Regions from separate parts of the Homo sapiens genome. Here region 2 is linked to region 1. The links come from fine-mapping of genetic effects on gene expression. Tissue or cell type: lymphoblastoid cells. Region 1 holds a variant in brackets; the other region holds the start of a gene. All regions are shown on one strand. Distances are between the middles of the regions.

The links. PIP is the estimated chance that this variant, and not a neighbour inherited with it, causes the effect.
Region 2: it holds the start of KATNAL1, and the variant in region 1 is fine-mapped to the expression of KATNAL1 in lymphoblastoid cells (GTEx, PIP 0.95).

What each region holds. Positions count from the first base shown.
Region 1 is chr13:30,238,962-30,244,113 of GRCh38, reverse strand. It overlaps KATNAL1 (katanin catalytic subunit A1 like 1), which reads left to right. Exons shown (of 11, transcript NM_032116.5): 5 at 3,028-3,155; 6 at 3,549-3,654. LOC102723381 (a long non-coding RNA gene) reads right to left here. Exons shown (of 4, transcript XR_007063741.1): 3 at 2,792-2,860; 4 at 2,197-2,506. Among named protein-coding and RNA genes, the nearest start is that of KATNAL1, 66 kb to the left of the region's middle. The variant T/C (reference allele first, on the strand shown) is at 2,419.
Region 2 is chr13:30,304,384-30,309,535 of GRCh38, reverse strand. KATNAL1 (katanin catalytic subunit A1 like 1) reads left to right here and starts at 1,985. Exons shown (of 11, transcript NM_032116.5): 1 at 1,985-2,205. RefSeq lists silencers at 1,981-2,210, 2,241-2,350.

The DNA of each region.
Region 1 (5,152 bases):
TCACACACTGGGGCCTGTTGGGGGGTGGGGGACTAGGGGAAGGATAACATGAGGAGAAATACCTAATGTAGATGATGGGTTGATGGGTGCAGCAAATGACCATGGCACGTGTATACCTATGGAACAAACCTGCACGTTCTGCACATGTATCCTAGAACTTAAAGTATAATTTAAAAAAAAGAAAAATAATGAGATTTCCAAGAAATTTTGCACTTTCCTTGGGCCATTGAAATCAGGCAACAGATGAATAAATTAGGCAAGTGAGAGGCAGTGGCTTTACAGGAAAAAGATCAGCTATAATTAAGCTTAGACATCCGTGTGACTATGACCCAGTGATTTTTATTACTAATTGGCCAGTAATTTCCGATGCGTGGTAGCTTACTACCTAATGAGTTGATTCGTCTGTTGGACAGAATCTATTGTTAGAAAATTCTTTCTTTTGCTGATCTGAAATCTATCTCTTTTGTTACTGGCCCTTGCTTTTTTTTTTTTTTTTTTTTTTTTTGGCTTAATACCTAGTAGGCCTGTTGGTTGTATTGCCCCATTAGAATTTACTTCTTCAGCTTAAATGTCTCTAGTTTCCTTGGTCTTCCTCCATATGACATGGGTTTTGAACCCTTTATCATCTTGATTATTCTTCCCTGGGTGTAATTTATCAGTATTTCTCTTAAAATGCAAGACCCAGAGCTAGTAACTGATCATGTTTTACTTAATCTGCCAGTGTGAGAGGTTGCATAGTAAAATGTAAGAAACATTTGCATTTTAGGGCAAACTATATCATTAATTGGCTCTGTAATATTTGGTTAGTCACTTTGAGCCTAATTTTCCTCAAATAGAAGATTATCCAACACTAATGAAAGATGAGTAACAAAGCTTTCTTGATATGGGAAATTTTGATGTTAGTAAAAAGAAGCTAAAATATTTTGCTTTCATGAGAAAAAAAGTATATCAACCTTCATGCTAAAAATCAAATTCTTGCTAATGTTGACCTTAGTCAACTCATATGAAAATCTAAGGAAAGAATTCTAAGATCATTTCAGTGACATTGCAGTTAGTAGTATTTATGTACACTTAGTAATATCTTGGAGAGGTTAGCTTTATTTCCTTTAACTAATAGTTTCCTTTAGGTATTGCATTTAATCTAGCTGTTTATATTTGATGTCTGTATTCTAATTTAAGTATTTTTTATGAAGAATAACTGTCACCCATTTTACTGATTTCCTGGCATAACCAAATTAATTTTAGTTTTCCTATGTCTGTTTTTTATAACCTCACCATTTTGATTTGAAAACGTTTCCAGAATCTTTTTTGTAGTCCTCGATCGGTATTCAAGTCTCATGTGTACCACTGAGAAACTTTGGGTTCTCGGGCAGGTCATTTAACTGGCCTATACACACACTTCTTCTTCAGTGTAGTGAGAGGCTTTTAGTTCTTTGATTCTCCTCCTCTACCCCGTCCTCTATAGGAGCCAGAAGAAATCCAAACTCACCTCTGCCCATATCTTCAACCTCTTTCTTCTGCGCAATACATTTTATTATACTGGCTACTCAGGTTTTTTCACAGCACTTCACAGTTTATGTGTGTTTTTGCTTTATTTACTTGTTACTCGTTTCCCCCACTAGACTAGATGCTTGATGAGGGCAGATAATGTATTTTCATTCACTGCTCTAAAACCTAATGCACAATAGCATGTATTGCACGTAGAAGATGCCCAAATATTTACTGTTTTTAAAATCCTATGATACTCCTATTACTTTCAGATAGGCATGCAGCTTTTTCTTTCTCCTGAGGTAGTGTTTATTAAGTTCTTTCCAGCCACTTGGACATTCATATTAAAATGAAATTTTAATTTTAACTTGATAAGTGTAAATTACAGTGCCATATGAAGGCTCAAGCTCCAGATATGTCAGTTTCTGTTGTATTCTTTCGTTGATACGTTTCTAGAATAGTTTTTAAATGATTACAGAATGTTCCTAGTGATTTGTTTGAATATGACTTGGTAGCCTTGGCCTATCTGTACTATAAAATTTGACTCTAGCCTAAGCTTAAGTTTGTTGATGTTATGTTTCTTGTGTAGGTGCCAAAAATTTACTCCTTTTAATATTGTCAGTATTGATATCTGTCATCTGGAATGCAAGAATCTTCGGGAAAATTTACTAATAAATTTAATGCTACCGCCATACTGCCCAGAAATAATTTATTTTTTTGGGTGAAGTACCAGAATACTGTTTGGTCACTTACCTAGTGGCTTGAAGGAACCAGAGCATCTGTCCAAGGGAGCCATTTAGTTTCCTCCAGCACTTATGATTGAGCCTTTTGACTATCTCAGAAGTGGGATTGGAGAAGTTTGTCTTGTTCTCTTGTCTCTTTTCCGGTTGAAGTTTAGGAGATTGACTCATTTTGACCATTTTCTTGTTT[T/C]GTTTTTACTCTAGGCAGTAACTGGGGCTAAAGCTCTGGGGAGGCACTTGGCTGTGCTTGCTGAAGTATTTCCATAGTTGGACTGTCTCTGGCAAATAAGTGAATTTCATTTAAAGCTCGTCAAAGCTGTGTGAATCTTGGCAGAACCCCATAGAAACCATAGCATAAAATTTCTTTTAAAACAACTATATTATTAAATGAAGAATTTGGGGTAAAGCATATTGCTTTAATGGTCTTAATACTATTTAAAAAGATCCTTCCACATTAATATTCAAAATGTTTTCTAGTAGTGGTGGAAATCCTCTGCGTCTACCAGTTCAAAGGTAGGCTTTCCCAGTCTTTTGGGATCTAGCAAGGATCAGTTTAGTCTTACCTGCATGCAACTGTTCCTGCAAGAATGTAGATTTGAAGTTTTTAATAAAGTTGACCAGTTCATGTATTTCTGATGAATTAAATAGAGGAGAATGGCATTTGAGTAATCAGAAAATACTACCTTAAAATAATAAAAATTATTTAGAAAGTGATGGCATTATAATGTTTTCAAAGCGTAATGATGTTAACTAAATTATCCATTACTGACTAGTACTTTTTTTTTATACCTATCCCCAGGGAAGGAAGAATATGCAAGATGGTGCAAGTGATGGTGAAATGCCAAAATTTGATGGTGCTGGTTATGATAAGGATCTGGTGGAAGCCCTTGAAAGAGACATTGTATCCAGGAATCCTAGCATTCATTGGTTAGAGTCTTTCAAATTATTGAATTAAAGTAGAGGAGAACACAAATTATAGGTTGTCTTGGTGTGTGAGTTTTCTCTTGTTATTCATTAATCTGATTATGACCACATCTATAATATGAAAGTATAGAATTGACGAGACAGTTCTGTCGAATGTAACCAAGGACATTTTACATGTTAATTTGAAGTTGATGTGTAACTGACAAGTTGTTAATTCAATGACATGTCCTCATTAATAACTAATGTTTTCACTGATCTTTTTATGCAGTAAGAATTAGAATAATGTTCTTACTATGAGAATAATTTCATAAGTAAAAAAAAATTAAAAGAATTAGTTTTGACCATAAATCAAAGATCCCTGAGTAAACATTATGAAAGTTTGCTGTTCTTTCAAAGGGATGACATAGCAGATCTGGAAGAAGCTAAGAAGTTGCTAAGGGAAGCTGTTGTTCTTCCAATGTGGATGCCTGACTTTTTCAAAGGGATTAGAAGGCCATGGAAGGTGAGAATTTATTAAATTGGTTTTGATATAAGAATGCTACTTGGCACTGGAATGAAAGGCAGCATTGCTGTAGTTTTTGATGTATTTAACCCATTTTGAAAAGGTTGGGAGAAGTTTATGTACACCCAAAACACCTGGATTTGAATTTGTAGTTGTGATGTGTTACATCTGCATAGCAGGAGAGATGGGCTTGGAGTGTTGAAACTATATAGTCTTTAGGTCACTTCACTCAGGGATGCTGAGCTAGAGATTAGTTTTAAGAATTTTCTGGATGTATGGTTCTATAAATAAAAAGTTAAGCAGATTAAGCAGAAATAATATATGGTCTTATAGAAGAAAGGTGTGATCAAACAGTTTTCAAAAGTTGGAATATTTCTCACTGATGGTTAATTATTTTGTTTTACTTGTCACTGACTTGAAAACAAATGTTTTTTCTAAAAAGAGGTCTTTAGCTGTGTTTTAAAAAACTACTTCTTGGCTGGGTACCGTGGCTTACACCTGTAATCCCAGCACTTTGGGAGGCTGAGGAGGGTGGATCACGAGGCCAGGAGATCGAGACCATCCTGCCCAACATGGTGAAACCTCATCTTTACGAAAAATACAAAAATTAGCTGGGCGTGGTGGTGCATGCCTGTAATCCCAGCTACTCGGGAGGCTGAGGCAGGAGAATTGCTTGAACCCGCGAGTTGGAGTTTGCAATGAGCCAAGATCGCGCAACTGCACTCCAGCCTGGCAACAGAGTGAGACTCCATCTCAAAAAAAAAAAAAAAAAAATCACTTCTGTATCATTACAAAATATCTGACTTTATCAATTTATTTTGTCCTTGCTGTGCTTTTGTAGTATTTATTGGCAAACTGGATTAAGAAAATAAAGATATATTTCTAAAGAATCTTTTTCCTGACCAAATAATTTTTTTCTGCAACAGTAGAATAAAATTCTTGAATAGAACTATTACGTTTTTTTAAAAGGTTATGTCTGAATTTTTTAGGGATTTGTGAGAATAGATTATTTACTGAAATGGGACAATAAATGTATTTTATTTATTTTTTGAGACTGAGTCTCACTCTGTTGCCCAGGCTGGTGTGCAGTGGCATGATCTTGGCTCACTGCAACCTCTGCCTCCTGGGTTCAAGCAATTCTTGTGCCTCAGCCTCCTGAGTAGCTGCAATTACAGATGCGTGCCACCATGCCCAGCTAATTTTTGTATTTTTGGTAGAGGCTGGGTTTTGCCATGTTGGCCAGGTTGGTCTTGAACTCCTGGCCTCAAGTGAACCTCCCACCTTGGTCTCCCGAAGTGCTGGGATTACAAGCATAAACCACTGTTTCAGGCCTGATAAATGTATTTTAAAGAATACATGAAAATAAGGAGACCTCAGAAATTTTTCAAGCTTCTAAAATTGGTCTCAAAATGTAAATTCCAGAATTTCAGAACTGGAATGAGTCTTTGAGATCATCTCAAATCCCCACTATTTGGCATACTAGAAAATTGAAGTCCAA
Region 2 (5,152 bases), 65 kb before region 1:
CATTTATAAAGCCATCAGATCTCATGAGACTTATTCACTACCATAAGAACAGTACGGGTGAAACCGCGCCCATGATTCAATTATCCCCACCTGGCCCTGCCCTTGACAGGTGGGAATTATTACAATAAAGTGAGAGGTGGGTGGGGACACAGCCAAACTATATCAACAGGTCATGTACGTAAGCTGCTTAATATTTATTGAGCAGCTACACTGTGGACTGAATCAAATAGAATATGAGGATACATATGTGAAAAAATATTATTTTAATAGCTGGCTCCAGAGTTCCTCTTGGGAAGTTACTTTGTGTAGGAAAAAACTTTGGTAAACAGTTTAGGAATGGCAGGTAGCTATGAAGGCACAGATTAGGAGATGGAAATAAAAGTATTGTATAAAGAGAGGAGAGGAGGGGAGAGATGGGACCAGAAAGATGGTACAATAGTGGGAGGTTACAGGTTATGATGAAAAAATGGGGGTAGGTGGTAGGTGGATAAAAATATCATGGGAGGAACTGAAGGACTTTTAAGAGCAGGGATTTCTAATTTTAGGTTTTTTGCATCCTTAATTTAAAACCACTTATCTGCTCCAAACCTTCTAAAGAGTTGGCTATAGAAACAACCAAAGAAAAGGGGCTGATTTCGAAATTATGTGTCAGCAGGAGTAGAGAGAGGAGAGTTGTAAGAGGTGATATGTGGAGAGGTCTAAGTGTTCAGGAAAAGCAAGAACTGAGAGCCAGAAGTGACGGTGCAATCCTTGAGAGGACATTGGCCGTGGGGAACACCACAAGGTGGATAAGGGACTCAGTCAAGTTCAAGAAAATCTCTGTGGTAGGATGACTCAGCTGGATTACAGGAGCCATTTTTGTTATTTTCAACCATAATTTTTCAGGAGATATTCATTACTAGAAAATGACAAGGTCACGAATTCACTCCCCTTCCTCTTTTTTTCTATTAAATTTCTGGGCCTCAGTTTTCCCATCTATAAAATCTAGAGATTGGGCCTAGAATATCTCTGTAGTTTCCATTAGAGTCTATAGCTCTAATAATAATAACAACACATTTTTATGTTCTCTTTTGAGGTAAATTTACATGCAGTGAAATGTACAAATCTTAAATGTCCCATTCCAAGAGTTTTGACAAGTGCATATACTTCTGTAACCGAAACTCTTAGCTATAGAATTTTTTCATCACTACAAAAAATTCTCTCAAACTCCTCCCCGACAGCCAACCACTATTCTGACTTTTATCACTATTGATTAAATAATTAATATTTAATAGCTATTGTTAAATGCTAAGCTTTGTTTTATAGAGCTTCATCAGTATTAATGCGTGTATTTCTTACAAGAGTTGCAAGATGGATATCTCCATTTTTGCAGATCAAAACGTTAAGAGGTGAGAAAGGCGCCTCTGGTCATCAGCTACCAAGCACAGGGGCAGGACGTGAACTAAGAATTCGTTTTAGAAGCCCACGCTCTTAACCTGTTTATCCTAGAGTCCACAAACGATTGCCAAGAAACAGCATAAATCCAAATTCAGTCGAAAGCAATGCCATTTGCAAATTCTAAAACCTCCTGAATAATCCTAAAGGCCATATGCATTCCATCTTATCGAAGGATTCCCTTCTATCCCCCTCCCCAGAGAATGGAGAAAGGGGGTGCGAAAGACTTCAATTCGGTTTGACTGGAGAAAAACACAGAGGTGGCGTAGGATCCACACATCCCTTGGGGGCAGACCCAGCGGCGGACGCCTGGACAGGCGGCGGGAAAGGCGCTGCGACGCCCCGGGTGCCCCCTCCTTCGACGCCACTGGCATCACCTCCGAAAGCAGCAGGCACGAAGGTGCCCTGCCACGGGGGCTGGACGCAGTGGAGGCAGGCTCATCAAGCACGACCAGAGCTCAGTCGGCCACACGTCCTCCTCAATGTCACTGTCTCCCTGCTCTCCCACCCCGCGCCGCTGCACCTCCCTCCCCCCGGCAACCTGGGCGGGAGTCCCAAGCTCCGCCCCAGAGCGGACTCACAGCCCCCGCGCTCCCTCCCGCGCTGCGCCCACCGCGCGGCCGCGGCTGCCATGGCAACACTACGCCGCCGCCGCCTTTTCACGCACGTCGCGAGCTAACGGACTCGGCGGCGGCGGCGGCGGCGGCCTGCGCCCCACCCGCACCCCATCTGGACCGCATCGCTGAATGTGCCCGGACCTGCGCCTTCTGGGTAATGAATCCGAGAGAAAGGGGCGAGGGCGAGACAGCAGGTGGTGGAGGGCTCTAGCCAACAGCCCCTCTCGGCCTCCCACTGCCGGAGACGCCAGGGCAGTGGGCTGCGGGGTTCCTCGGGCGCTGGCTCCCGTGCGGGGACGGGGAGGGGCGCGGGAGCGCCAGGCTCGCGGTGCATCATGGGAATTGTAGTTCAGCGACTCCTCGGGCTCGCGGTCTTGGTGGGGTAGCTCGGACTGGCGAACTACAAAGCCCGGCGGCCCCGACCGCCGGGAAAGACCGATAAACTTTGAGCGGACCGGGACAGAAAAAAAAATCTCTCTTTGTCTTGAGGGGGCTGTTGAGTGGTCGCGGACCTGGGCTCTGTGCGTTGGGAAAGGGAAGTGGAGGTGAGCCTCGGGCTTCCCGCCCTGTAGCTGGGCCCGCCCCAGTTGCAGCGCTCAGCCCCACCCCGGCTGGGCCACCGCCCTGCACAGTCTCAGGGATGAGCAGCCGCCCAAGCTGCAGGGCCTCGGGTCTTCGGCGCCTCTGACCCTCGCAGGTTGCTGCCTTTCGGTGCAGAACCGTATGTATGTCACACATTGGATGTGAGACCTGAGAAACCGTGTTTTAACAGGTTTTTCTCCTTTCCTGGATACGTTTATTTCTGGGTTAGTCATGTTTGTTTTAAAGTAGCTCAGAGGTGTTTGCATATTAAACCCATCAATTGGTAATTACTCAAAGGGCAGTAATGTTTAAAGGTTAAGTGTGGAAATAGATAAAAAGATGTCATTGCGATTATATGGTGGTATCTGGCATTTTTAACTTTTTGCATTTTTGAATTTTATTTCTTGAGGTTCAAGGTTGTGAAATGAGTGCTCCACCCCACCCCCCCCTTGCCAGCCTGAACACTGCCTACACATATTTTGATTAGTTCAGCTTTAAATTACTAGTAACTTTTAAAAACAGACTTTTTTAGCAGTAGGCAGCAATAATTCTTTGATTATTCCAGTGTTATTCAGAATTTCTCAGCATGTTTTCGGAAGGAAAAATACCATGTTTTAATTATTTAGTTAATTCTTTATATATTTTTTATGTTCAGGAGTACACTTGAGTCCTTAGAGTTGACTCAAAGACTTGCTGGTAAAGGAAGCTGACACAGATTTACGAAACCTTCCTTGACGACCCTTTAAAATTTTTTAATAGGTAGATAACCATCCTAGAAATTTGCTGCTTTATGGAGTAAGTTGGAGAATTGTTGATATTATTGTGAGTTTGTGTGTGTGTGTGTTTAAAAACAAAAAGACCACAAATCCTATAAAACTTTCTCTTAATTAAAATGAAGTTGACCTGTGTAAATTTTACTTGAGGTTGCAATTTTGTACAAGGAGGAGATGGAAAGTAGGTTTAGTAAGACAGGTAGAAAACAAAATTGAGGCCTTATGTGATACAACATAAGGTTTGAAGTATTTTATTTATTCATTCAAAATGTGTTAGGAACCTATGTGCCAGGCATTATGCCAGGTGGTGAGAATAAAGAGATGAAAAAAGATAGTCTGTATCCTGCATGGGCAGTCTTGTCATCACAGTAGTGTGGTAGAGATAAGTGCAAGTTGCTCTAGGAGCCCAGAGGAAATAATCACATAACAGTAACATTTATTGAATATGTCAGGTGCTGTGAGGAGTATTTTGCATGCAACTCCTTACTTAATCCTCAAAACAGTTGGTGAAGTAGTTACTGATTTTTAGAGATGAGGAAACAGGCTTTAGAGGCCTTGCTCAAAATCATAGCTGGTAACGTGTGAACCTGGGATTTCAGCCCAGGTGGGTCTGGTCCTGATCTCAAGCACTGACCATTCTCTGTCATTTAGTAGAAAGATCCTGACTCTGTCTAAGGAAGTCAGGGGAGGCCTTCAGTGTGATTTGACTTTTAACTTGTGTTAAAATAGTTGAATAAGCTTTCACTGGAGTGATGATGAGGAAAGTCATTCTAGGACAAATGGATGGCACAAAATAAGCAAAGGATAGATTGAAGAATCAGTATTTTGTATTTGGGAAACGCTAGGTAGTTCTGAATGACTGGATCCCAGAATACTTGCAATTAGTGGGTGAGGCCAGATCTTAAAGTACTTGGCACCATATTCAGAGTTTAGAATTTTTCTTGATATAGGGCAGTCATTGAAGAATTTTAGCTAGAGTGGTGGTGGCGTCAGATTTGTATTTTAGAAAGATAACTCCAGCCCCAGTGTAGAGAATGGACCTGGGAGGGGAAACATTACAGGTAGTAGAAAAGCCAGTTGTATAATAGAAAAAAACAAAGTCCAGTAGAGAAGTGAAGAGAGTCTGAATTAAGCATTTGGAGTTACAGAAAGACATGGATTCAAGGAATATTTAAGAGATAAAATTGATATGACTTGATAAGAGTTTGGATGTTGGGAGTTAGATTTGGAACTCTTAGCTGATTGATTCCTCAGTTTCTGGCTAGCATGACTGAGGTAATAGTGAATCCGTTGATTGAGATGAGGAGGAGCTGGTTTTTATTGGGGTGAAATATAAAGATATTAGTTGAGTTTTGAGCATTTGTTAGAGGTTCCTATGGGATATTCAGGTGGAGGTGCATTTTAGTCTGGAGTTCAGAGAGAGCAGGCTGGAGTTAGAAGTTTGCATATAGATAAGTAATTAAAGCTACAAGGGAGAATGGACCAGCTCACATTGGAGTAATGAGTAGAAAAGAAAAAGGAAGAGGTTTGGATATGGAACTCTCATTTAAGAAATGTGTGTAGGCCGGGCGCAGTGGCTCGCGCCTGTAATCCCAGCACTTTGGAAGGCTGAGGCGGGCAGATCAGGAGATCAAGAGATCGAGACCATCCTGGCCAAGATGGTGAAACCTCGTTTCTCCTAAAAATATAAAAATTAGCTAGACATGGTGGCGCACACCTATAGTCCCAGCTACTCAGGAGGCTGAG